Linked DNA regions of Homo sapiens. The protein of the gene in region 1 purifies or fractionates together with the protein of each later gene. This does not show direct contact. Each region holds a gene or a part of one and is shown in the gene's direction. Other genes may lie near its edges. The genes, in order: TMEM268, VRK2, RDH11, DHRS7, SNX14, TMEM63B and CYP51A1.

Region 1 (4,102 bases):
AAAACAAAGACCCTTTCTATTAGGTTGGTGCAAAAATAATCGCGGTTTTTGCAATTTTTTTTTTTTTTGAGATGGAGTTTTGCTCTTGTTGCCCAGGCTGGAGTGCAATGGCGCAATCTCGGCTCACCGCAACCTCCACCTCCCGGGTTCAAGCGATTCTCCTGCCTCAGTCTCCCGAGTAGCTGGGATTACAGGCATGCGCCACCAGGCCCGGCTAATTTTGTATTTTTAGTAGAGACGGGGTTTCCCCATGTTGATCAGGCTGGTCTCGAACTCCCGACCTCAGGTAATCCTCCCGCCTCGGCCTCCCAAAGTGCTGGGATTACAGGCGTGAGCCACCGCGCCCAGCCTGTAATGTTTTTAATGGCAAAAAAACGCAATAACTTTTGCGCAAACCTAATATTAATATAGGGACGTTTATGTGCCCCTTAAAAGGAAATGAGGCAGTGTGGCGCGTTCTGGCCGATGAGCGCCAAGGTACTTTGTCGAATGAAAAAGCAGAGTGCCCAACAGAATAGAAAAGGCCTTCCTTTGTGTAAACGCACACACGCACAGGTACATATGTGCTCTAAGGAAAAATACAAGGAAAGCACAAGGTTAGTGTTTTCCTCAGGGGAAAGGTTACTTACTTTTAACCGTAGACCCTTTGAAATTACGAAGGATGGCGATGGGAGTGAGCCCTTGTGAGTATAGCAATTGGGAACACGAGTGAGTATGTGTCTGGTAGCTGTGAACATTTCACACACACTATCTCATTAAATCTTCACACGACCTCATGAAGTAGCTATAATTATCTGCTTTTTACAGAAAACGAAGGCACAAAGAGGTTAAATAATTTACCAAAGACGATAATAAGAAGTGGAGAGACCCGAATCACAGCCTAGTCTGACCCCAAACCAATGCTCTTAACAATACAGCACATACACAATTTTCCATTAGAAACAAGTCCCCGGCCAGGTGCGGTGGCTCACGCCTGTAATCCCAACACTTTGGGAGGCCAAGCAAGAGGATCGCTTGAGGTCAGGAGTCCGATAGCAGCCTGGGCAACACAGCGAAACCCCCGACTCTAAAAACAACGACAAAACCAACCAAACAAAAACCAAACCCAAGTCCCCAATAAACTTCTGGTCTCAAATACTGCCTCATCCACGGGTTCCGTGATTGTGTGTGAGGGGGCTGGACCTCTGGAGTAAGCCGCTCCTTTACAGTGGGGAGACGGCGGGAACCCGTGCCCCAAGATGCCGTGCACGTGGTCGGCTCCGCGCGGAGGCTCCTTCCGGCGTCCCGGGGGGGCGCTCGGCTGATGAAACGCGGCCTCCAGCTCCGCTCCGCCGCGGGCCCGGGAGGCGCGTTCCCTCTTGGCCCCAAAGCGAGTCCGGCGGGCGGCTCCTCGGGGTTGGGCGACCGAGCGGGGCCGGCCGGGCGGGGGGCGGGCCCGTGAAGGCGGCGCAGCGCGGCGCGGGAGGCGTGCTGGGCGCGGGGCTGCGGTGCCCAGAGGCTGCGGCATTAGGGGCTCGGCGCCCCCGACCTTCCGCGTCCCGGGGTGGCGGCGGCGGCGGCGGCGGCGGCGCGGGCGGTGAGTGTGCGCGGGCCCGGGCGCGCGCCCGTGTCCTGCGATCCGGGCTTGGTGCTGTGGGGCTCCGGGGCCGGGAAGCAGCCTGGGCGCCTCCGCCTTGGCCTGCGTTCGGGCCAGACGGCCTGGGTTCGGCGCGGCGGGCAGCCTGCGGGGGGTCCTTCGTGCGCCCTGGGGCCCCTCCCCCGCGTGCCGGCCGTGGGAGCGGCTCTGACAAGCCTCCTGGGGGCCCGCGGTTGGGGAGGGCCAGACTGATTTATGGGGAGAAGGAGATCCCCCATCCTCAGCCGACCTGGACAGTTCCAGAGGGCGGAGACTGAGACTGGGACGAGACAGCTGCCCAAGGCCAAGGCCGTGTATGGCGAGACAGCTCCAGCTGGCGTGAAGGAGCCTGGGTTTCAATTCTGGCCCAGTCCAGGACTGGCTCCTTGACCTTGGATGGTACACTTTCTTTTCTGGGTCTTAACGTCCTCACCTGTAAAATGGAGAGCTCGGACTCATTGTGTCTCAAGGTTTTTCCGCCCCGAAACTTCTGTAACAGGCCCTCTTAGGGTCTCGTGTTGTGTTTTTCACAAACAAAACAAAACCTGACTTAGGAAACTGACGAATCTCAGTGCTGCACATAGTTCCCGGGGAGGCTGGGCACTCGGTGTCTGCAGAGCTGGGGGCCTTTGCGCAATAGGACTTAAGAGTATGTTCCTTTGCAGATGCTCTCTACGGGCTGAAAAAGAGGGGAGTTGACCTTGTGCAAGATGGATATCTGGAAGTTCTGGTTAAAATGCAGAATCAGCAGAGGAGACCCAGAGAAGCTCTAGTTTTCCTGCTTAGTTGCAGGGGCCTCAAGGCTGTGCTCACTCCCCCTGCTCTGCCTCCACCCTGCTGTCTGTCTGACCTTCTGTGTTATCCTCGGGCTGGTGCAGGGCTGAGCTGGATGGGGAAATGGGGTTCAGGACATATGATAGGCATCTGCCCTTGAGGTCTTGCCAGCACCCCTCCTGCCCTCTGCAGCTTCCTGGTTGAATGAGGGGCTGCAAGGTGACCACACAGGCTGCCCTGATGGGCATGTCCTGGCCTCTGGTCCATATCCCTTTCTGCTTGGCACTGGCCTCTCTTGGCTCTCACCTCCACCTTTGCCAAGCCCAGGAGCCTCCTTCCTCCAGGAAGCCTTCCGGAGAACCCTTCCCCCACCCCAACCAAGGTGCTCCCTCTCACTGCCTTGTTGCAATTGTTTGTTTTGTAATTGTCTTTCCCTGAGTTTGTCTTTCCTACCAGATGGTGATCCCTAGCAGGGAGGGCTGAGTAGGAACTTCAGATTTTATTTCCAGTTTCGTGCTCAAGATAGCACAGGGCCTGGCCTGAGAAGGTGCTTAGGAAATGTCTGTGGAGTAAAAATGATGGCAGCTATATTTCTTCAATGATTCCTACTTGCCCAGTGCTATTTTGAGTGATTTACATGTGTGAACTCTTTAAACCTCACAACCACCTGAAGTTACTGTCGTTATCCCCACTTACATGTAAGGAAACTGAGGCAGAGAAGTAACTTACTCAAGGTTACACAGGTGAGAAGCGGCAGGACAGGGCCGGTTACTTTTAGCTATTACAGGAAACAGCCTCCAGGTGAATGGAATAAAGCCTGCTGATTAGTACTTTGTGAGAGGCTGATGGGGCCAAGTAGAGTGCTGTGGTTTCTTCTGAAAGACATTGCCTCATGGGGGGATTTTGCAACAAATGGAACCTTCCACGCAGTCTGAAAGGCTACCTGTGCAACTCCAGCCTGGGCATGGTCCCTCGTGGCTGCTCGGTCCCCCAGGCCTTTTTGAGACTCTAGTACAGCTTCTCTGGGCTGTAGGCCCCTAGCTACGATGTCCCTTCGTTTCTTGTCTGGAACATGGATCTCAGAATTATATCTGCCTCAGGGGCCTAAGAGATGATCAAATGAAGGAGGGAAGGGCTTCAGTGATTATCAAGTGCAGGGCAGAGATCCTTGTGGCTATTTTTGTTGGTACAGGAAGAAAGTAAGGCGTGATGAGAGTGAGAAACACTTAGCATATTTAGGAGAGTCTCCTGCTGTGGGCCAGGTGAGGAGGAGAAGGCCCCTGCCATCCCCAGAGTAGCATCTCAGGGCTGACTTGCATTTGTTGCTTGATCTTGCCTGGGAAATGCAGTCTCCCTTGACTCACTCTTTTTTGTTTTGTTTTGTTTTGTTTTGTAAGGGTGATTTCATGAACATTCTCAGAGACAGTCACACTAGAGTGCAGAGGGGCAAGGGCATGGAAATTATGGGCTTGGACCCTGGAGCCAGATGGCTTGGGTTTATCTCCTGGCTCCATGGCTGGTAGCATAGCCTCCCAACCTTGGGCAAGTCACTTTACATCTTTGACCTGCGGTTTTTTCTCCTGTAAAATAGGAAAATCATGTTGAGGAAAGGGGCCTGTCTGGTGAGCCGAGTACTGGATATTATGCTTGCATTTCCTTCTGTTACATCCCCACAGCAGCTATAGGAGGTAGACCTCTCTATCCCCATTTTAC
Region 2 (2,783 bases), on another chromosome or scaffold:
GCAGACCAGCTGTATTGGCATCATCTGGAGCTTCTCAGAAATACAGAATCTCAGGTCATACTCCTAGACCTTTTGAATGAGATCTGCATTTTAACAAGTTATGATGATCTGTTTGCTTTCTAATACTCGAAGAATAATGCCGTAGAGCAGGGGTCAGCAAACCTTTTCTTAAAAGGCCAGAAAGAAAATATTTTCAGTTTACTTTCCATACAGTTTTTGTCAGAACTATTCAACAATGCCATTGTAGTGCAAAAGCCCACATAGACAATACATAAACAAATTGATGTGGCTCTGTTCCAATAAAACTTTATTCACAAAACAGGCAACTAGCCAAGCCAAATTTTGGCAACTCCTGTTATAGACTATCCTAATCAGACCCCCTCAGTGTACTGAAGACAACAGGTGGTTAAATTCTTTGATGAGTGCCTTGCCATATGATGTCATTTGCTGATGTTCAAGAGAGATTAAGTGTATAGATTACACAGTAGATGATTCTGGAAATTATAGTAGCTTGACTTCTATCCTTACCTAAGTGGAGATATCTCCCAGCCTTGCACATGTGAGCTATATGTAAATGCTGCTCTATGATTTGATAGCATAATTATTATTTGTATTATGCTTTATAGGCCTACTGGAATAATTATTCACTTATTTTGACTTTAGTTAATAAAGCTGACAAACTTATGAAAAACTGCATTAATGTGACTTCGTTAGCTCAGAAAGAGTAGTTTAAAATGAGTTATTTAACTCTAAAGTGAGTCATTTAACTCTCAAGTAATTTTTTTTCATAGGAAAGCTAGTAGTTTTTAAAACATCCTTTGTTTTATGTAGGACTCCTTTCTGACACTTCCAAAACTCTGTATCTAGAAAGGGGAGGGCTGTTTGTTTGAAGGGTGGCAGTTTAAAGGTTGAGAAGGTAGTAGCTATTCTGAGAATGATGGACAGTGAACAAGCTTAAAGTATTTTGCTTTGTTTTATAAATTTCTTCTCTTCTAAGTTAGTTACTTGATAAATGGTGCTGAGGGGGCATGCCAGATGTCACCAAAGCAAAGCAGAAAAACTCGACTTTCAGCCAGTTAAGTGGTGATCAGGAAACTGATTCCTGGGACTTTGGCCAACAGGAATGATGAAAACATAGAAGTAGCTCCCGAAACTTGCATAAGTAACCAGTTAATTTGTTTTATATTAATACCACTTAATTTGCTTTATATTAATATCTATTCGGTCTATACTGGTTCGTCTGTATAGCTTTCCAAGAGACATAACACTATAGCTACCCCTGAGGCAGTTTTCTTTGGCTGTGTACAGCCTCATCCTTTGCCCACTGTACAGTGGACACTTCTCAGTTGCCATGGAATCAGAAGGTAAAGAAAGAATCACATTAATGACCAAAATATTTCTAATTATGGCTATCTTACCCCCTTAAGATTAAGCCCAATTTTTTGGTTTTGCCAAGAAAATTCAGTTTTCATATTCTATCCTATTTATTTTTAGATTATAAATTACTTAAGAGATGGCCTACTGACGTGGTTTAAAAGAACCACTCAAATTATATCCAGATTTGCTTGTTGGATGTTTATAAACTCTTAAAAAGTGTAAATCTTTAAGATCTTTACCTAAAAATTACTTCTCAGGAAAAATAACACGCAAAAACTTGATCTTGTATAACATTTTATTTAGCATTCTTACACACTACACAAAATAAATACTTGGATAACTCACGTCTAACAAACTAAACTATATATGTATTTTTTCCATAGGAAAGCACAAGGAGAAGACAGAAATATCAAGAGTCTCAAGAACCTTTGAATGAAGTAAACAGTTTCCCACAAAAAATCAGCTATACACAATTCCCAAACTCATTTTATGAGCCTCATCAAGATTTTACCAGTCCAGATATATTCAAGAAGTCAAGATCTCCATCTTGGTATAAATACACTTCCACAGTCAGCACGGGGATCACAGACTTAGAAAGTTCAACTGGACTTTGGCCTACAATTTCCCAGTTTACTCTTAGTGAAGAGACAAACGCAGATGTTTATTATTATCGCATCATCATACCTGTCCTTTTGATGTTAGTATTTCTTGCTTTATTTTTTCTCTGAAGATGATACCAAAATTCCTTTTGATAATTTTTTAAGTTTCCAGCTCTTCACCGAAATGTTGTATTCTTATTTCAGTGTTTCCTTCCAGACATTTTTAAGGTAATTGGCTTTAAAAAGAGAACATATTTTAACAAAGTTTGTGGACACTCTAAAAAATAAAATTGCTTTGTACTAGAAATAGTGTCATAGAATAGTGTCATAGTACAGTTTGGAAAACACTTCTGAAGTTTCAGATCACCTAGGAAATCTAGAAAAGGAGTTTAATGTTTTTGATCAGAGAATTTGAAAAATAGAAATACAGAGAATGAGTTTCAAAAGTTTTAGATAAACTGATATACTATATAGATCTATCTTCTAGAACATATTACTGAAAGCTAGGCACATTTTATGAGATGTGATTAACAATTTGCTTACCTTACTACAATATGGACATTCACCAAATATGATGTTAAAACTCTGTCTACTAGTTAGTAGTCCTCTCAGCCACTGCAAATTTTAAAAGATAAAGGAGAAGCGTCAGCATGATTACAAATTACAGATACTCCAAATGTCATTCCCTTTGTTTTTAAGTGCATTATGTTTTTATTCCAGAAGACTTAGCTTAATTTTGTTTTGCAAGAGTAAGGGATGTATTTCCTGAGCCAATAGCAGACTATTAAGATGTTGAGTAACAAGGGA
Region 3 (3,500 bases), on another chromosome or scaffold:
ATAGGATCATCCTACCAAATGAACATCTGTGAGATGGGAAGGAAACTGGTGGTTAGCTCAGTCCTTATGCCCAGTCTGTGCCCAGGGCATGACATCTTTTATCAGTTTAGGATAGATAAGGGTAACTGGATGGTGAAAACTATCCAAAGAGTTGATCAGGGAGCTAGGGTGGCCTGGAGGTGGAAAGATGGGTCCAGTGGTGAGAATTCACTAATACATGAATGAGGTGACTCTGATAGTTGTGAGGATTCAGTGGAAAATCATTATGGTGCAGTAAAAGAACCCTGGTTTGACAGAAGATTCATTCATTCAGCCATTCAGCAGACACGTATTCAGTGCCCATGTTGTTCCGTGCACTGGGTTAGGGGACAGGGGATGAATTGGTGAACAAGATAGGTATAGTCTCTTCTTTGGTTTGGTTTACATCTAACGGGGGAGAAAGACAATTAGCAAGTCTTTATACAAACTATTAAATGTAAAATCAGTCTAGTAATGCATGAATAATTCTCATTGTAAAAAGCTCAAATAAGGTCAGGCACAGTGGCTCACACCTTTAATCCCAGGCACTTTAGGAGGCCAAAACCGGAGGATCACTTGAGGCCAGTTCAAGATCAGCCTGGGCAAAATAGTGAGACCTCATCTCCTCTACCAAAAAAAAAAAAAAAAGAGTTCAAAGCATATGGAAGTATGTAGAATTAAGGTGAAAAACCACCTTCATTTATTCCCCTCTTCCCCCTGCTCTTCTCCCTTCATATGACCATTATCAACAGCTTGTGTGCCCCTTTCCAATAATTTTCCTATGCATTTACATATGTATGTATCATGCACAAGGAACTGAAACTCCAACACAGTATCTTGGAGATCTTTCCATTTAGTACATATGGATTTACCCCTTAATTGTATTGGCTGTGTTGTATTTCGTAGTATAGATGTGCCTTAGTGTATTTATGTATTTCCTTAACAACATCTGGATTGTTTCCTTTTTGTTGTGGCTGTTTAATTATAATTGTGATAAATGTTATAAAGGAGAAGTACCAGGACTTACAATGGATTTTAGTGGGAGTCTTGGGGGGACCTTATTCAGTCTGAGGGTTCAGGGAAGACTTTCCTGAAGAAGTGAGTTGCATGCTGAGCCCCGAAGGATGATTAGAAATTAAATGGATTAGAGGTACTGATAGAATGTGGAGGCTGAGGCCGGGCGCGGTGGCTCACACCTGTAATCCCAGCACTTTGGGAGGCCGAGGCTGGTGGATCACCTGAGGTCAGGAGTTCGAGAACATCCTGGCCAACTTGGTGAAAGCCCTGTCTCTACTAAAAATACAAAAATTAGCCAGGTGTGGTGGCGGGCGCCTGTAATCCTAGCTACTGGAGAGGCTGAGGCAGGAGAATCGCCTGAACCTGGGACAGAGTTTGCAGTGAGCCAAGATCATGCCATTGCACTCCAGCCTGGGCGTCACGAGTAAAACTCTGTCTGAAAAAATGAAAAAAAAAAAGGGCCGGACGTGGTGGCTCATGCTTGTAATCCCAGCAATTTGGGAGGCTGAGGTGGGTAGATCACCTGAGGTCAGGAGTTCAAGACCAGCCTGACCAACATGGAGAAACCCCATCTCTACTAAAAATACAAAATTAGCCGGGCATGTTGGCGTGTGCCTGTAGTCCCAGCTGCTCAGGAGGCTGAGGCAGGAGAATTGCTTGAACCTGGGAGGCAGAGGTTGTGGTGAGCTGAGATCATACCATTGCACCCCAGCCTGGGCAAACAAGAGTGAAACTCCATCTCAAAAAAAAAAAAAAAAAAAAGGAATATGGAGGCTGAGAAACATTCCAGGCAGAAGGAGGAGAATGTACAAAGGTCCGGGCTCAGTTTGAGAAACAGCGAAGGTTACCATTGGTAGGTTGTAGAAAGCAAGAGTAATAAAGATCTGAGCTGAGACTGGTGAGGTAGGTAGATGCCAAACCCTTAGAGGCCACAGTAAGGATTTTAGTGTTTATTCTAAGAGCAATGGGAAACGGTTAAAATTAAAGCCTTTTCAAAATGGGGGCAAGAGGGGTTGCAGCAGTTGATTTCATCAGCAGAGGTGAGAAATGAGGGTAGTTTGGACTAGGTGGTGGAATTGGAGGGTAGTAGAAACTTCTGAGAGAGATTTGGTTTGGGAAAGCTTGTTGACTGGAGATGCATGCTTTAGGTGGGCATTCATCAGAACCCTTTTGCCTGATTGGGCATGTCGGGAACACTGCAAGAACCAGGTTTGGCTTTAAAAGTAGAAATCAATTTGGGACCTCTGAGTCTGCATTACTATGGGTCATCTAGGGAGATGTCGAGTAGGCAGTTGGGAATAATACAGCTGTGTCTGCAGCTGTCAGTCCACAAAGACCAGAAAAATTCTGTTTCTTCAAAGCTTTACACCAAAACTCATTTGGCAGCAAAACATTTCCTGTACTAGGGAGATTAGATTAATAGGCAGTGTATGTATACATTTCATATTACCTTTCTACAATCAGAGAAAAAAATTGAAGTATGTCTGGCCCCAGCGTTTTCCATAAAGGATTGGGGGCCTGAAATAGCATGTGCAAAAGTATCATTTAGCACTTACCATGCATCAGGCACTTTTTTTTTTTTTTTTTTTTTGCACCGGTGTCTCACTCTGTCGCCCAGGCTGGAGTGCAGTGGCACGATATCGGCTCACTACAACCTCTGTCTCCCTGGTTCAAGTCATTCTCCTGCCTCAGCCTCCCAAGTAGCTGGGATTACAGGTGCACGCCACCATGCCCGGCCAATTTTTTCTATTTTAGTAGAGACGGGGTTTCACTGTGTTGCCCAGGCTGGTCTATAACTCCTGAGCTCAGGCAGTCCACCTGCCTTGGCCTCCCAAAATGCTAGGCTTATAGGTGTGAGCCACCACGCCCAGCTGCATCAGGCACTCTTTTAAGACCTTTAACATATATGAACTCATTTAATCCTCATAACTACCCTGTGAGGTTGTAAGTATTATGATTATTCCCATTTTAGAGATGAAGAAATGAGTCACAAAAGGGAACTTGCCCAAGGTTACACAGCTAATGAGTGGAGCCAGGATTTGAAACTGGGCAGTCTGTCTACAAAATCCATGCCCATAACCACCACATTGTGTTGACTCCCAGTGTGTCTGCAGTTCAGAGGAGCAGTTTGGACTGTGGACAAAATGTGAGCACCATAGAATTATGGAGAGGGAGTCTGGTGAGCCACGAGAACTCCAACATTTAATGTTTGTGTAGAAGATGATGAACTGGTCCAGAAAACTGAGACAGAGCAGCCAGAAAGGTTAGGAAAACCAGAAGTGGCATAGGCTTATGGAAGCCAGTGAAAAAGAAGACTTTAAGAAGGGGATGGGCGCCTGTAATCCCAGCACTTTGGGAGGCCGAGGTGGGCAGATCACTTGAAGTCAGGAGTTCAAGACCAGTCTGGCCAACATGATGAAATCCCGTCTCCACTAAAAATACAAAAATTAGCCTGGTGTGGTGGC
Region 4 (3,500 bases), on another chromosome or scaffold:
TGGCTCATTGCAACTTCCGCCTCACAGGTTCAAGCGATTCTTGTACCTCAGCCTCCTGAGTAGCTGGGGCCACAGACGTGCACCACCACACCCAGCTAATTTTTGTATTTTTAATGGAGACGGGGTTTCACCATGTTGGCCATGCTGGTCTCGACCTCCTGACCTCAGGTGATCTGCCTGCCTCGGCCTCCCAAAATGCTGGGATTACAGGTGTGAGCCACCGCACCCAGCCATTATGTTCACATTGAAAGCAACTTCAAGTATAAAGTTATTATTTTTCATGGAACATTTATTAATAGTACCTAAACTGAGATAATTTTGAATTTTCCAACAGACCATTTTTTGGGCCATCTCTCTACCTGTCATTCTTTTAAATCTTTAACTTTGCTGATCGAGCTAACCACCCAGAAATGAGAGTTAGTTGCCACAGTAGTGCTCAGCAGGGCAACAGGCCTCTTTCATGATACTGCTTTCAAAGGCCTCTTGTGTTTTTGCACTGGGCCACTTCTTTTGATAGTTGTTCCTCTACTGCTGTGACTTGCAAGTCCTGTACTGGTGGAGTAGATGAACCAGGTCAGCATTTCTTACCTGGCACAAGGCTGTTTCCTTTTATCTTGCAGATCTGTAGTGCCCACTTTTTCATTTAATACAGTTGATGTTTCACGCTTAACTCTTTTGCCCATGAAGTCTTTTTACCTCTTCTATTTTCTATACTTGCTTGTTTTTCTTACTGATGTTACTTGTATTTCAAGGTTAGAGTCCAGGAAAATTAGTTTCAGTTGTTCTTTTGATGAACAGAAAGCCAATCACAAAGCAGCAGCATGTTTCTTGGTTGGGAATTTCAGGCATGTGTCCTTTTCCCTGTTTACCTCCAGGAATCCTTAGCCTCTGGAGAGAAGCTTCTATATGTCATTTGACTGTAGGACTCTGAGCTTCTTACTGATTTTAAGCACAAGTAGTTGTTTTGTGTGTAGAAGAGCAACTCATCTTTGTGAGCCTATCACAAAACAAAGGTACCTCTGTACTTCTAAAGAAATTGCTCTAAAATATTTGCTCTTTTCTAGTTTGTAGTATAATCTTGATTTCTATCAGAAATCAAATTGTAAAGTTAGACTGCATATTCAAGTTGCCATTCTACTTCCTGTGAGGCCAGCCAGCTTTTTGTCTGATATAACCACTAGTCCTCTTCCTGACCACCGAGAGGAACTTTCACAGGGCCACCCAGAAATGAGTTTGTTGCCAAGTCCTGTTGCAGGGTGGGTGTTAGTGGGAGTAGCAAGGAGCTTGACTGAACTATGGCATGACTTCCACACAAATTTTTGTCTTTATTTAGAGAATGGCAATTTAAAAGAAAAAGATATACTTGTTTTGCCCCTTGACCTGACCGACACTGGTTCCCATGAAGCGGCTACCAAAGCTGTTCTCCAGGAGTTTGGTAGAGTAAGTAGCATCTTATATTGATATAGTCTTGCTTTGAAGTAACTGCAGAAGAGATTCCCATCCGTGGTGCTGTCATACAAAGGGCTTTAGGCAAGTGGGGTCCATGCAGTGAGATCGGGCCCATGAGTTGGGCCCCTTAATCTCTGAGCCTTTGTCATTATGGAATTAGTACTTTTCATGTCTTAACAAGTACAAATTCCTCCATGTAGAACAAAAGAAGCTAAAAATTCACGGCTGCTTTTATTTATTTATTTATGTATTTTGAGACAAAGTCTTGCTCTGTCGCCCAGGCTGGAGTGCAGTGGTGTGATATCGGTTCACTGCAATCTCCGCCTCCCAGGTTTAAGGGATTCTCCTGCCTCAGCCTCCTGAGTAGCTGGGATTACAGGCATGCACCATCACGCCCAGCTAATTTTTATATTTTTTAGTAGAGATGGGGTTTCACCATGTTGGTCAGGCTGGTCTTGAACTCCTGACCTCATGGTCCACCCTCCTCAGCCTCCCAAAGTGCAGGGATTACAGGCTACTGTGCCCAGCTGGCTGCTTTTATTTATTTTAATGACAATTATTAACTTTCACAAAAAGTCACCTAAAACGGGAATTTAATTCCACAGGTAAATTCAGGGCTTTATTTTATCTTTTTAATTGCTGACTTCTGGAAATATACCATTGTTCCATTGATTCTTTAAGTTAACAAAATAACCAACCATCCATAGGAATTCCATCAATCTATCCACAAGACATCCCCCAAACACCCCTTTTCTGATTTTATTTAACTAGATCGACATTCTGGTCAACAATGGTGGAATGTCCCAGCGTTCTCTGTGCATGGATACCAGCTTGGATGTCTACAGAAAGCTAATAGAGCTTAACTACTTAGGGACGGTGTCCTTGACAAAATGTGTTCTGCCTCACATGATCGAGAGGAAGCAAGGAAAGATTGTTACTGTGAATAGCATCCTGGGTATCATATCTGTACCTCTTTCCATTGGATACTGTGCTAGCAAGCATGCTCTCCGGGTAAGGCTGCTCAAACTCAACTCTGATAGAACTGACTTAAATGTGTATATGGGGGATATGGCCATCACTGTGTGAGGTCCTTGGAACTGGAAGTGATGTGGGGAGACAGAGAGACCCAAGGAGACTTTTGGTAGAGGACACCCCCAGTAGATGCTAAAAAAGACTTGATCCACACATGCCTCTAACTTGTTGAACAAATAAATATGTATCAAGCACTGCATTGTGCCATGTACTACAACAGACCCTGGGGATATAAAGATAATAAGATGTGGTCTCTGCCCTCAAAAAGTGTATCATCTATTTAACATGTTACTCTTCACCTTATCCTTATTCCTACTAAATCTTCATGGAAAATTGGGGGTCCACTTCTCCTTTCTTCTACATACACTTCAGGATGTACTTTTTCCTCCCCATTTCTGTGACTTCTTTTCCTTGCCCCTTGTAGTTGGTGTTTATTTTGCCTGGTCTAATTATATATGCATGTCAGAAATAGGTACTTCCCACAGGATGATTAGTCCTGGTCTCATATCCTTACTGGGAAAAATCTTGACTGTATTCTCTCTGGTTTCATTGGAAGAAGAAAATCTAGTCAAGGCAGAGGCAAGGAGAGAAGCTTGATTTGGACTGCATAACTTACGATGTATAAATATTAGAAATGGATGAATTTTTAATGGTGGCTTAAGACTGGATATAAAGAAATTATAAGGCCAATAGGAAAAGAATGATTAAGGAAGACACAAAATTTATATTTAAAGCTGTTGAAGTCAGTTTAAGTAGAATGTTTCACTGTTGGAATCATGAGATGCAATAGCTACATGGTCATCATGGTTTCATGAAAATTTGAAGCTTTGGTTCTTTAGGACATCTTTTTTCTGCTGCAAAGTGCAGACAATTGCAGACAGTGATGAAGCGGAATGCTATACTGATGATTTCCTCATATTTAGTAACAGGCATCAGTCACTTCCTGTGGAGCAGTTGGGCAAGCCTCAGGCAGGCAGATGAGGGAGGGCGGCCACCCATCTGTTTGGCACCACGTGTCT
Region 5 (3,500 bases), on another chromosome or scaffold:
CCAAGATAAGCAAAAAGGAGCAAAACAGACTTTTGAAGAAATGATGAATTACATTCCAGGTGTAATATTTAAGAAGTAACTTAATTTCATATAGATTAGCAGTCCGTTGAGGTCACAATGTATAGTAATTATTGAAGCTAATTTTTTACTGTGAGTTTTCATTTTACAAATAGTTGCAAAGATCAGTTAAAATTAACACACTAGTTAAATAATTCTTTCAGATGTTAGCACTAAGACTAAGATATTAGGACTTTAAGGCAAGGCTGTTTCTACTCACATAATAGCCAGATTCATTCAAAAATAACTTATAGTCAGACTGGTCAAAGTGACATGTGGGACAATTGAAGGCCTGTGTCCACGACACCATAAGAATAGCTCACTAGTGTGTATGATAAAAGATCAGAATTCATTCATTCCAAATTTATTGAGCACCTTCCATATTCCAGGCACTATGCAAAATGCAAGGCATATAAAAAATGCACTTGAGTAGGTCAGTCTAGCAGGAAGACAGGCATATAGACAAAACATACATGTGATAATAGAGGCATTTTCAAGTTACAGAGATATCACAAAGGAGGAGGATGGTCACCTCCTCTGTAAAGTTGGTAGGTTTGGGCCACTAAGGAAATGAGTGGTAGTAACCTCTTAACTGTGACGGGAAATAACAAGGAAGAAATGTCAAGGGATCAAAGCAGGTGATTCTTAGTTTAGAACATTTTGAATGAGAAGTGCCTATAAATTACTCAGGAGGAAGTGTCTGTTAAACACTTAGACACCGAGGTTCAAAAGTTGGAGAAAAGGTGGTATAGGATAGATTAGTAGAGATATGGGAGCCATGTGTGAGTAGATACTAAAGCATAGGGAGAAAGTATGGAGTAAGAAGAGAAAAGGGTGACTTCCAGTTTCTGGTCTGGCACATAAGAACCTGGCCATCATCACTCCATCCTAGTAACAAGCAAAAACCTGAATGAACTAAAAAAACTAAACAACTCTTAGATTCACCAGAGAGTGAGGTCATACGGCAAGCCACTGCCCCCCAAGGTTGGAGAGAATCATAGCTAGCTGCAGCAGAAACCCGTGAACTCAAAACCCCTGGAGAAGCCAGTGCTGAGCTAGGGAAACCTGAACTATAACTGACAAATTGCTACAGCCTTTTAAATCTCTTTTTAAGAGATTAAAAACTCCAGGGGAACCAAGTCATGGGGTTACCCATCCACATTTTTTTTTTTTTTTTTTTGAGACAGAGCCCCACTGTGTCACCAAGGCTGGAGTGAAATGACACGATCTCTGCTCACTGCAACCTCCGCCTCCTGGGTTCAAGCAATTCTACTGTCTCAGCCTCCCGAGTAGCTGGGACTACAGTCCTGCACCACCACGCCTGGCTAATTTTTGTATTTTTAGTGGAGATGGGGTTTCCCCTTGTTGGTCAGGCTGGTCTCGAACTCCTGACCTCAGGTGATCCACCCGCCTCGGCCTTCAAAAGTGCTGGGGTTACAGGCGTGAGCCACCGTGCCCAGCCCATCCACACTTTTTTTGTGAGTTTTACCTCCAGGGCCTTGACCAAGATCCCACAGTGAATATTGGAGAAAAATCCCCATGTGCTTCTGGCAAGGGGGCCAGAAGGGAACCATTTTGAAATACATCAGTCAGGGCATTCTGTTCTTGACAAGGCCCTACCCTCAGTAGAAAGTGACCAGAGCCTGACTGACCTGATGGAAGGGAAAGAACCAACTCTAGCCAGCCCTGGCCTTCCACATGGAAGAAGGGAAATACCCAACTCCAATACACTCTAGCCATCTTGTCCTGTGCAAGGGGGTCAGGGGGGCCTGAGAAGCATGTGTGAAGTTCACAGTTCAGTGGTACAAGCTCACTAAAAGATTGAGACCCCCTCCTAGGACTATAGAACCCTTCCTCTCCCTCCATATTTTATCACCACATTACTAAAGGCCTGTTTGCAGCAGTTCCTCTTAACTTGTGTGTCATGTCCAGTTATCAAGAAAAAAATTACAAGACATATTAAAGGCAAGAAAAAACAGTTTGACGAGAAAGAGCAAGTATCAGAACCAGAGTCAGATATGGCAGGGATGTTAGAATTATACACCAAGTGGGATTTATCCCAGGTATTCAAGGCTGGTTCAGCATTCATTCAAAAGTCAATTAAGGTAGTCCATCATCACATCAGCAGGCTAAAGAAGAAAAATCATGATCATAGCAGTAGATGCAGAAAAAGCATTTGACAAAATCTAACACCCACTTATGATCTCAGCAAACTAGGAAGAGAGGGGAACATCCTCAACTTGATAAAGAATATCTACAAAAACACCTATAGCTAACATCACACTTGATGAAAAACTTAAAAGCTATCCCACTAAGATGAGGAACAAGGCATGCTCTCACTACTGCTTTCAACATTGTACTCGAAGTCCTAGTTAGTGCAGTAAGACAAGAAAAGGAAATAAAGAGCATAGTGATTGGGAAGAAAGAAATAAAACTGTCTTTGTTCACAGATGACATGATTGTCTATGTAGAATATCCAAAAATTGACAAAAATGCTCCTGGAAATAATAAGCAATTTTACCAGGGTGGTAGGATATAAGGTTAATACACAAAATTCAGTTACTTTTCGTGTATATCATCAGTGAGCAAGTGGTATTTGAAATTAAAAAAAATACTATTTGCATTAGCACCCCCAAAAGTGGAATACTTGGGTAGTAATCTAACAAAACATGCACAAGATTTATATGAGAAAAATTGTAAAACTTTAATTAAAGAAATCAAAGAACTAAATAAATGGAGAGAGATTTTATGTGGATAGAAATATTCTGTTTTCAAGATGTCCGTTCTTCTGAACTTCGTCTATAGATTCAATGCAGTCCCAATCCAAATCCCAGTAAGTTGTTTTGTGGGTATTGACAAACATTTTAAAGTTTATATGGAGAGGCAAAAAGACCCAGAATAGCCAACTCAATATTGATTGAGAACAACAAAGTCACAGGATTGACACTACCTTTCTTCAAGGCATACTATAAAGCTACAGTAATCAAGAAAGTGTGATATTAGCAAAAGAACAGACTTACAGCAACTGTTCTTATTAGCAAAGGAACAGTTTACAGCAAAACTGTAAAACTTAGAGGATAACATGGGAGAAAATGTAGATGACCTTCTGTTTGGCGATGACTTCTTAGTTGCAACACCAAAGGCATGAACCATAGACGAAATAATTGATAATCTTTACTTCATTAAAATTAAAAATTTTGCTTTGTGAAAGACACTATAAAGAATGAAAAGAGAAGCCACAGACTGGGAGAAAATATTTGCAAAAGACGTATCAGATAAAGGACTGTTACCAAAAATGTACAAAGAAATCCTGAAACTCAACAATAAGAACACAAACAACCTGATTTTAAAATTGGCCAAATATCTTGACACCTTACCAAAGAAGATTACACACAAGCATATGAAAAGATGTTCTACATCATATGTCATCAAGGAAATGCACA
Region 6 (3,500 bases), on another chromosome or scaffold:
ATGCCATTTTTTCTAATAGGCATAGAAAGAAAAGATCAGGATGAGGCAGCTGGCTCCTGACCCATTCTCCCCTGACGTGGAGACCCCTCATCTTACCCTTGAGTCCTCAGGCCTAAGACCCCTCCCTGTCTTCCCAGGCTCAGCTCCGCCCCCTGCCCTAAGACAGAGAGAATGAGAGTGTGGGGGTGGCGGCGGCAGGGGGGATTTAGATAGATGTTAGAAAATCACAGATACCTTCCAGCTTAATGAAACCAGCCTCCCCAGTCCAGGCCTGGCATCTAGACTGAGTTCCCCAGACCCAGGGTGGGGTCATAGCCAGAGAGCCAGTGAAGGTAAATCCATGTGACTCAACTCTCCCCTCCCTAGGCCCTTATCTCCAGAGGCCAGAGCTTCCATCCACCCAGGCAGCCTGGTGATCTGTCCTCACTGCCCCCTCCCCACGCCCACCCTACTGGGCCATGAAGGGGATGGGGGCAAGCCCAGCTGACTGCTCCACCCTCTGCCCAGGAGGACCATGCGGCAGTAGCAGCCATGCTGCCCTTTCTGCTGGCCACACTGGGCACCACAGCCCTCAACAACAGCAACCCCAAGGACTACTGCTACAGCGCCCGCATCCGCAGCACTGTCCTGCAGGGCCTGCCCTTTGGGGGCGTCCCCACCGTGCTGGCTCTCGACTTCATGTGCTTCCTTGTAAGTGCCTGCTGCCACCCCTTACCTTGGCATCCATGCCCTGTACACACCTGGCAAACACTTCCAGCTCTAACCACTCTCCCACCTGCCCCGGTTTCCCAGGCTTAAGCAGGAGGAGTCCCCATCATCCAGCCCAAGCCTCGCCTTTGACCATTCACCCAAGCCAGGGTCATCCCCTTCTAAGACAAGATTTTGGACCCTCTGCTTCTGCCCCCTAGTCCAGCAGGTGGACAGACAGCCTCTGCACTTGCCAACTGCCCCCTCTTCCCTCAGGCACTGCTGTTCTTATTCTCTATCCTCCGGAAGGTGGCCTGGGACTATGGGCGGCTGGCCTTGGTGACAGATGCAGACAGGTAAGGGTCTGGGACCCTCCCTCTAGCTCTCCACACACACATCTTGTTCCACACTCCTCAGGAATAGGAAGGAGCCAGCCCTCTCTCATTCCCCTTTGCTGGGGGGATGAGAAGGGACTAGCCCCAATGTGGGCATGGGGGCATGAGGGCCCTAAGTTGGGCCCCTGTTCCTCACCTGTCCCCAGGGACTCTCCCCCGCCCCTGCTAACCCTGTCTGTTCTCTGTCCCCAGGCTTCGGCGGCAGGAGAGGGACCGAGTGGAACAGGAATAGTATGTGGGGCACCAGCCCCCTCATTCCCACTAAACCAGCTTTCCCTTTTCTTCTCTCACGCTTCTCTTCTCTTCCTGCCAAGTTGCTGGTTTCTTTTTGCAGTTTTCTCCTCTGCAGGCTCATGTTTCGGATTAACGCAGGCGGTGTGCTTTGCAGAGCAGGGGGCTCCCCAGCTTGTCTCTGCCTCACCTCCCCTTCATCTCTCCCTCTGGCTCCCTGCCTGGGAGAAGTCCCTCCCTGTGTGCCCCTGCCTATGCAGCCCTTGTTGGCTGGAGGGGAGGGGCTGTCCTCCAGGAAATCCTCAGCACAATCACGTAGAGACAAGATTGGGTGTCACCAGCAGCTTCTTGTCCGCTAACAGCTAGTTCTTCATATTCCAGGGTTCCCTGCTCACCTCTTCTGGAGGCCTGGGAGGAGGGCTGCCCAAGGAGCCCCCCAGTCTGGGCTTTTTTGTCACTTTGTCATCTCTGTCTATAGGATTGGAGTTGGAGTTGTAACAGCTGTTGGAGTCAGGGAAGAGGGAGGGGAGCGGAGGGTAGGGTCCCACCCAGGAGACCTTCCAGTCTCCCCAGCCCTTCCAGGTTCTCCTGGTCCATCCTTTCCTCCACCTCCTCATTGCTCTTTGCATAATGTTGGCTCCGTTGCCCGCCCCCGGCCCCTGCCAGTCAACTCTGGAACTGCAGGGCCCTCTGGCATTCTCGCTTCAGCCTCCTTAGGGAGATGATGAAGATTACCTCCTCCCTCAAGTCCCCACTGCCCACCATCAGTGCCCACCTCCGCTCCCACCCTGAGTCCCCCTGAAAGGAAGAGGCATATTTGAGGGAAGCAGGGTAGAGGGCAGTCATTCCTCTCTGCTTCAGCCTCTGCGCTTCCTGTGCCTTCTGTGCCTTCTGTAGCCCTGGAGCTCTGGAGCACTCAGCCCAGCTTCCCGGGGGCTCAGACTCACCAGGCTCTCTGATCTCTCATCTCCCTCACCCCCAGTGTGGCTTCAGCTATGCACGGGGACAGCCATGACCGGTATGAGCGTCTCACCTCTGTCTCCAGCTCCGTTGACTTTGACCAAAGGGACAATGTGAGTGCCCTCCCCCCAAACTTCTTAGTCCCCCACCCCACCCCCAGGGCACATGGGCTGAGAAGTCCCTCACTTTCAGTGATGTGGAGTCAGGGATGCTGGTTTGGCCTCCTCCTCAGCAAAGAAAGTGATTCAACCAAGGAGCCACAGGATGACCCCCCAGGCCCTGAACTCCTGGCTGCTGTCCTCTATGTCACAGTCTCCAAACTAGCACAGCCTTAACATTCATGAATTCCCAACTTTGTTTGCCATAAAGAGTTTTGTGCCCACTTCTGCTGATTAATCCTAAGGCCACCTTTTTTCCGTAGTCATGGTTTTAGAAATAATAATAAGCCCTTGGCTCACGCCTGTAATCCCAGCACTTTGGGAGGCCGAGGCGGGAGGATCACGAGGTCACTAGATGAGACCATCCTGGCTAACACGGTGAAACCCCGTCTCTACTAAAAATACAAAAAATTAGCCAGGCGTGGTGGTGGGCGCCTGTAGTCCCAGCTACTTGGGAGGCTGAGGCAGGAGAATGGCGTGAACGCGGGAGGCGGAGCTTGCAGTGAGCTGAGATGGCGCCACTGCACTCTAGCCTGGGTGACAGAGCGAGACTCCATCTCAAAACAAACAAAAAAAAGAAATAATAAGCCCTCCAGCCCTGCCTAGAAAAACAGAATCTGTCATGTTGCTCGGAGGTTGCAGGTGGGTGGCCCCTGGCCATGTGGGGCCGGTTGACCTGCTTGTGGATTGGAGCTGAGTGGCAGTGGTCCCTTTTAACAAGGCATATGAATGGCAATTCATAACAGACTCCAGACCCCTTTCATATCAGACCTAACACACAGGTGTTACCTGCCTGGCTCTCCATCATTAATTCCATGAGGGTAAGGAGCCTAGTCAGAACTCTAATCCTCAGACATGGTGTGGCCCTGGTCAGTCCCTCTTGGGCTGCAAGTCCTAGGGGTGGCAGCTCTTCCAGCAATTCCAGCAGAAGATGGCCTTCAGCTTCCTGAGTTGGACTCATACTGGTAGGTGGCAAAGTTGTCACATCTGCTAGCCAGAAGTGTCCAGATGGTCCCCAGACTCAGGTGATGTTGGCAACAGGTAGCATGGTCCTGAATCACGGCCGAAA
Region 7 (3,500 bases), on another chromosome or scaffold:
AAAATTGATATTAATTAACCCTCATTTTTCTTTACCATGCATCTGTGGGGTTTTCTAACCTGCTCTATACATCTTCTGTGATTTCACTGTCCACTTGAATGACCCACATGACACCATAGCTACTCAATTATTTGCCCGTCTTCTCTCTAATGAGCTTCCCTGTGCCAGTTAAGCCATTTACTTCACAGTCTCGCTTTGGACTTGTCACTCTTAACTGTTTCACTTCCACAATATTAATTTAGATATCCTATTCGTAGACCATACCGTCTCCTGGTTTGCTTGTGCAACTCCTTAAATTATAACTATTCTTTGACCTCATTGGATCTTGCATTCCATTTACTTTCTCCTGATCCATCAGCCTTCATTCTTCACTTTCCTCTTTCCGCTTTGGGTCCATGGCATGTCGTTTCTGTTACACTCTTGGCAATACTGTACTTTAAATTTCCTCGACCCCGCATCTTTTCATTGTGTTCAGCTGGCAGAAGTCACCCTTGGAGGCAGCCAGTTATTGTCTCCTTCTGCACCAGATTAGTTTCTTCCTGATTTTATGATTGCCTACCTTAATGATATTTGAACACTGCTCCACAGTCCTATTATGTTCTTGTGATTGGGCCTACTTTTCCACTCATTACAGTGACTAATTCAAACCTTCACTTTTCTAAACTTCTGAATCTTTCTACCTCTCCATCAAAGCAGATGATTTTTTCTCCTGTTTAGGAGACAATGATTAAAAACGTTGATTTAGGAGACAATTATTAAAACATTCAAAGAAAACTTCCTCATTTTCTCAATTTCAAATATGCAAACCTACTTGTATTTATATAGTAATCCTATTCTCTTTCTTCCTATCACAGTAATAATTATCAAACACTTACTTTATGCCAGTACTTAGTGCTTTACAAAGATCATCTCACTGAAGCTCCACAAAAACCCTTTCAGGTATATTTGTTTTATAGATGACAAAACTGAGAAGCAGAGAGGATATATAATTTCTTCTTGGACTCACTGCTAGACAGTGGCCAAGCCAGGATTTACACATGGTCTGATTTCTGAGCCTATACTTTTATTAATGATAACAATAATGGAAAACAAGTCATTAAGATGCTAAGTAAGCCAAGGTACTCTTCTCTGCCCTGTATATAAAATTTGGCAGCAGCTCTGTGAAGAACTGCTATTATTATTATTACCATTTTATAGGTGAGAGAAACGAAACACAGAGAGACTAAGTTCTCTGACTATAGGACCAAAGTCATACAGCAAGTAGGTGGAGGAGCTGGGATTTGAACACGGACAGTCTGGCTCACTGCGTTCTACCACTTTGATTTTATTACAACTATATTTTGCCTCTTATCGGAGGCTGAACTCTCCATCCCTCTTTTGTCTCAGGAACTTTTTACTTTTATTTGTTTTCTCAGTGTATTGTTGACTTCTTTTTCAATGGCATCTTTCCTTTTTCTCTGAAAAATTCTTGTCACCCGTTTAAAAACTTCCTCAAAATGGCTTATGAGGCTCTGTATGGTCTAGCACTGCCTAATGCTCAACTCTCATCTCCTCCTTTCTCTTTCTCTTACTTTTAGGGCCTTTGTGTATGTTTAGCTACCAAACCAGCTCCTCATTCTTCTGGTCTCAACCTAGTTGTCTTTTCCTCTATTAGGTCTCCCTTTTTTAGATTCTCTCATCACAGAGTTGCTTTCCTTTCTGTAATACTTGTCACATTTGCAGTTTTATGTTTGTTAATGTGATTATTTGATTAATTTGTATTTTTTCCAATAGACTAAGCTTGGTGAGTTGGGACAGTATTTTTTTTCATGATTATACCCCCAGAGTCTAGTCTTCAATCATAACCAGAAAACTGCAAGGGAAAGTATTTAACATCTAACCAAATTAATATAAAATAAAAAATGAAGTCATTTAGTGTAGGTGAGATAGTGCTAAAATAGATAAATAAACTTGTAGTGTCTTCACATAGCAGGTACTATAGAAAAGGTCAAATTCTTTGGCTAGTCTTGTAAAATTTGTTTTTAACCAAAGGGGGAAGAAGTCTATATTTTCAGAGGTGTTCATCACAGAATTAGCTGTAATAACTAAAGAAAACCCTGACATATCACCCATATGTCCAATAATGAAAGAGTAGTCAGTAAATTAACATTGTGATGTTTATATAGACAATAGAAAACATTGTCAATATAAACTGAAAAAAGCATAATAAACAGTTATATTTATACTACATTTGCAACTAAATGAACATAATTATAAATTTGGACAAAGGAAGGAGGAGTATGGCAAGATGAAAAGAATTGCTTTAAGGTTTATATATGTTTTTATTTTTTTAATAATGCATTATTTTGTGATTTTAAAAAGTTACTGTCGTAGTGTTGCATATTTTTTGTAACATCACTATATGTACTTTTCTCTTTTTAGTATGGACCTGTATTTAGTTTTACCATGGTAGGCAAGACATTTACTTACCTTCTGGGGAGTGATGCTGCTGCACTGCTTTTTAATAGTAAAAATGAAGACCTGAATGCAGAAGATGTCTACAGTCGCCTGACAACACCTGTGTTTGGGAAGGGAGTTGCATACGATGTGCCTAATCCAGTAGGTGACACTGTTACCATAAATAAAGACAAATCTATACCTCAGTAGTTATAGCTAATAGTGAGACATTATACATTTAAAATGTAGAAACAGCCAGGCATGGTGGCTCATTCCTGTAATCCCAGCACTTTGGGAGGCCAAGGTGGGTGGATCACTCAAAGTCAGGAGTTCAAGACCAGCCTGGCCAACATGGTGAAACCCTGTCTCTACTAAAAATACAAAAATTAGCTGGGTGGGGCTGGTGGTGCACACCTGTAAATTCCAGCTACTTGGGAGGCTGAGGCATGAGAATCGCTTGAACCCAGGAGGCGGAGGTTGCAGTGAGCCGAGATCACAACACTGCACTTTAGCCTTGGCAACAGAGTGAGACCCTGTCTCAAAAACAGAAACAAAAAACCAAACACACACACACACACGCACGCGCACACACACACACACACACACACACACAGAAACCAACCAAACAAAAATGTAATAAAATGTAGAACCAGTTTATTCCTTGGTTCAAAAGTCTGAAGAATCATGAGAAGAAAGGCCATGGATAACTGATAAGTAATGGGTATTTAGTTTTATATTTGCTGTCATGGCTAAACAATATTAAAGGGCTTCCTGTACAAATAATGGAATCAATGATAACTTAGCATACTGGGATTTAATTTGAAAGGGTTATTAGACAATGCTGTTACTTCATCAAAAGGACTTCCTGCCTACCCATTCCTGCCTGAAATTCTAACATAAGCGCTGTTTAGAGATTGCTGACTTCAGAAGTCCTCTTTTAATGCAACAACTTCACGTGTGGGGTACATCTATGTGTATGTTTTACCCTCAAAAGCCAAATACGAAATTGTTTTAAGTTGATATAGAACACAAATCAGACAATTGGCCCCAATGCTTGGTATGGG

Evidence for each region.
Region 2: the proteins of TMEM268 (region 1) and VRK2 purify together in Homo sapiens (affinity purification with mass spectrometry; one large-scale study listed by BioGRID and IntAct). This does not show direct contact.
Region 3: the proteins of TMEM268 (region 1) and RDH11 purify together in Homo sapiens (affinity purification with mass spectrometry; one large-scale study listed by BioGRID and IntAct). This does not show direct contact.
Region 4: the proteins of TMEM268 (region 1) and DHRS7 purify together in Homo sapiens (affinity purification with mass spectrometry; one large-scale study listed by BioGRID and IntAct). This does not show direct contact.
Region 5: the proteins of TMEM268 (region 1) and SNX14 purify together in Homo sapiens (affinity purification with mass spectrometry; one large-scale study listed by BioGRID and IntAct). This does not show direct contact.
Region 6: the proteins of TMEM268 (region 1) and TMEM63B purify together in Homo sapiens (affinity purification with mass spectrometry; one large-scale study listed by BioGRID and IntAct). This does not show direct contact.
Region 7: the proteins of TMEM268 (region 1) and CYP51A1 purify together in Homo sapiens (affinity purification with mass spectrometry; one large-scale study listed by BioGRID and IntAct). This does not show direct contact.

What each region holds. Positions count from the first base shown.
Region 1 is NC_000009.12:114,609,989-114,614,090, forward strand, and holds the start of TMEM268 (transmembrane protein 268), read left to right. Parts: upstream 1-1,302; 5' UTR 1,303-1,576; intron 1,577-1,582; exon of another isoform or gene 1,583-2,014; intron 2,015-4,102. UniProt on the Homo sapiens protein: Stabilizes cell surface expression of ITGAM and participates in the adhesion and migration of phagocytes during bacterial clearance.
Region 2 is NC_000002.12:58,157,589-58,160,371, forward strand, and holds the end of VRK2 (serine/threonine-protein kinase VRK2), read left to right. Parts: intron 1-1,654; exon of another isoform or gene 1,655-1,760; coding exon 1,761-2,105; 3' UTR 2,106-2,176; coding exon of another isoform or gene 2,177-2,212; 3' UTR 2,213-2,283; downstream 2,284-2,783. Other genes in the region: E3 ubiquitin-protein ligase FANCL, read right to left, coding at 2,460-2,591. UniProt on the Homo sapiens protein: Serine/threonine kinase that regulates several signal transduction pathways.
Region 3 is NC_000014.9:67,685,765-67,689,264, reverse strand, and holds part of RDH11 (retinol dehydrogenase 11), read left to right. Parts: intron 1-3,500. UniProt on the Homo sapiens protein: Retinol dehydrogenase with a clear preference for NADP. Displays high activity towards 9-cis, 11-cis and all-trans-retinol, and to a lesser extent on 13-cis-retinol.
Region 4 is NC_000014.9:60,151,899-60,155,398, reverse strand, and holds part of DHRS7 (dehydrogenase/reductase SDR family member 7 isoform 1 precursor), read left to right. Parts: intron 1-1,333; coding exon 1,334-1,440; exon of another isoform or gene 1,441-1,447; intron 1,448-2,220; coding exon 2,221-2,460; intron 2,461-3,500. UniProt on the Homo sapiens protein: NADPH-dependent oxidoreductase which catalyzes the reduction of a variety of compounds bearing carbonyl groups including steroids, retinoids and xenobiotics.
Region 5 is NC_000006.12:85,510,359-85,513,858, reverse strand, and holds part of SNX14 (sorting nexin-14), read left to right. Parts: coding exon 1-59; intron 60-3,500. UniProt on the Homo sapiens protein: Plays a role in maintaining normal neuronal excitability and synaptic transmission. May be involved in several stages of intracellular trafficking. Required for autophagosome clearance, possibly by mediating the fusion of lysosomes with autophagosomes.
Region 6 is NC_000006.12:44,134,054-44,137,553, forward strand, and holds part of TMEM63B (mechanosensitive cation channel TMEM63B), read left to right. Parts: intron 1-366; exon of another isoform or gene 367-507; coding exon of another isoform or gene 508-531; coding exon 532-690; intron 691-963; coding exon 964-1,043; intron 1,044-1,274; coding exon 1,275-1,313; intron 1,314-2,295; coding exon 2,296-2,386; intron 2,387-3,500. UniProt on the Homo sapiens protein: Mechanosensitive cation channel with low conductance and high activation threshold. Osmosensitive cation channel preferentially activated by hypotonic stress.
Region 7 is NC_000007.14:92,127,978-92,131,477, reverse strand, and holds part of CYP51A1 (lanosterol 14-alpha demethylase), read left to right. Parts: intron 1-2,421; coding exon 2,422-2,598; intron 2,599-3,500. UniProt on the Homo sapiens protein: Sterol 14alpha-demethylase that plays a critical role in the cholesterol biosynthesis pathway, being cholesterol the major sterol component in mammalian membranes as well as a precursor for bile acid and steroid hormone synthesis.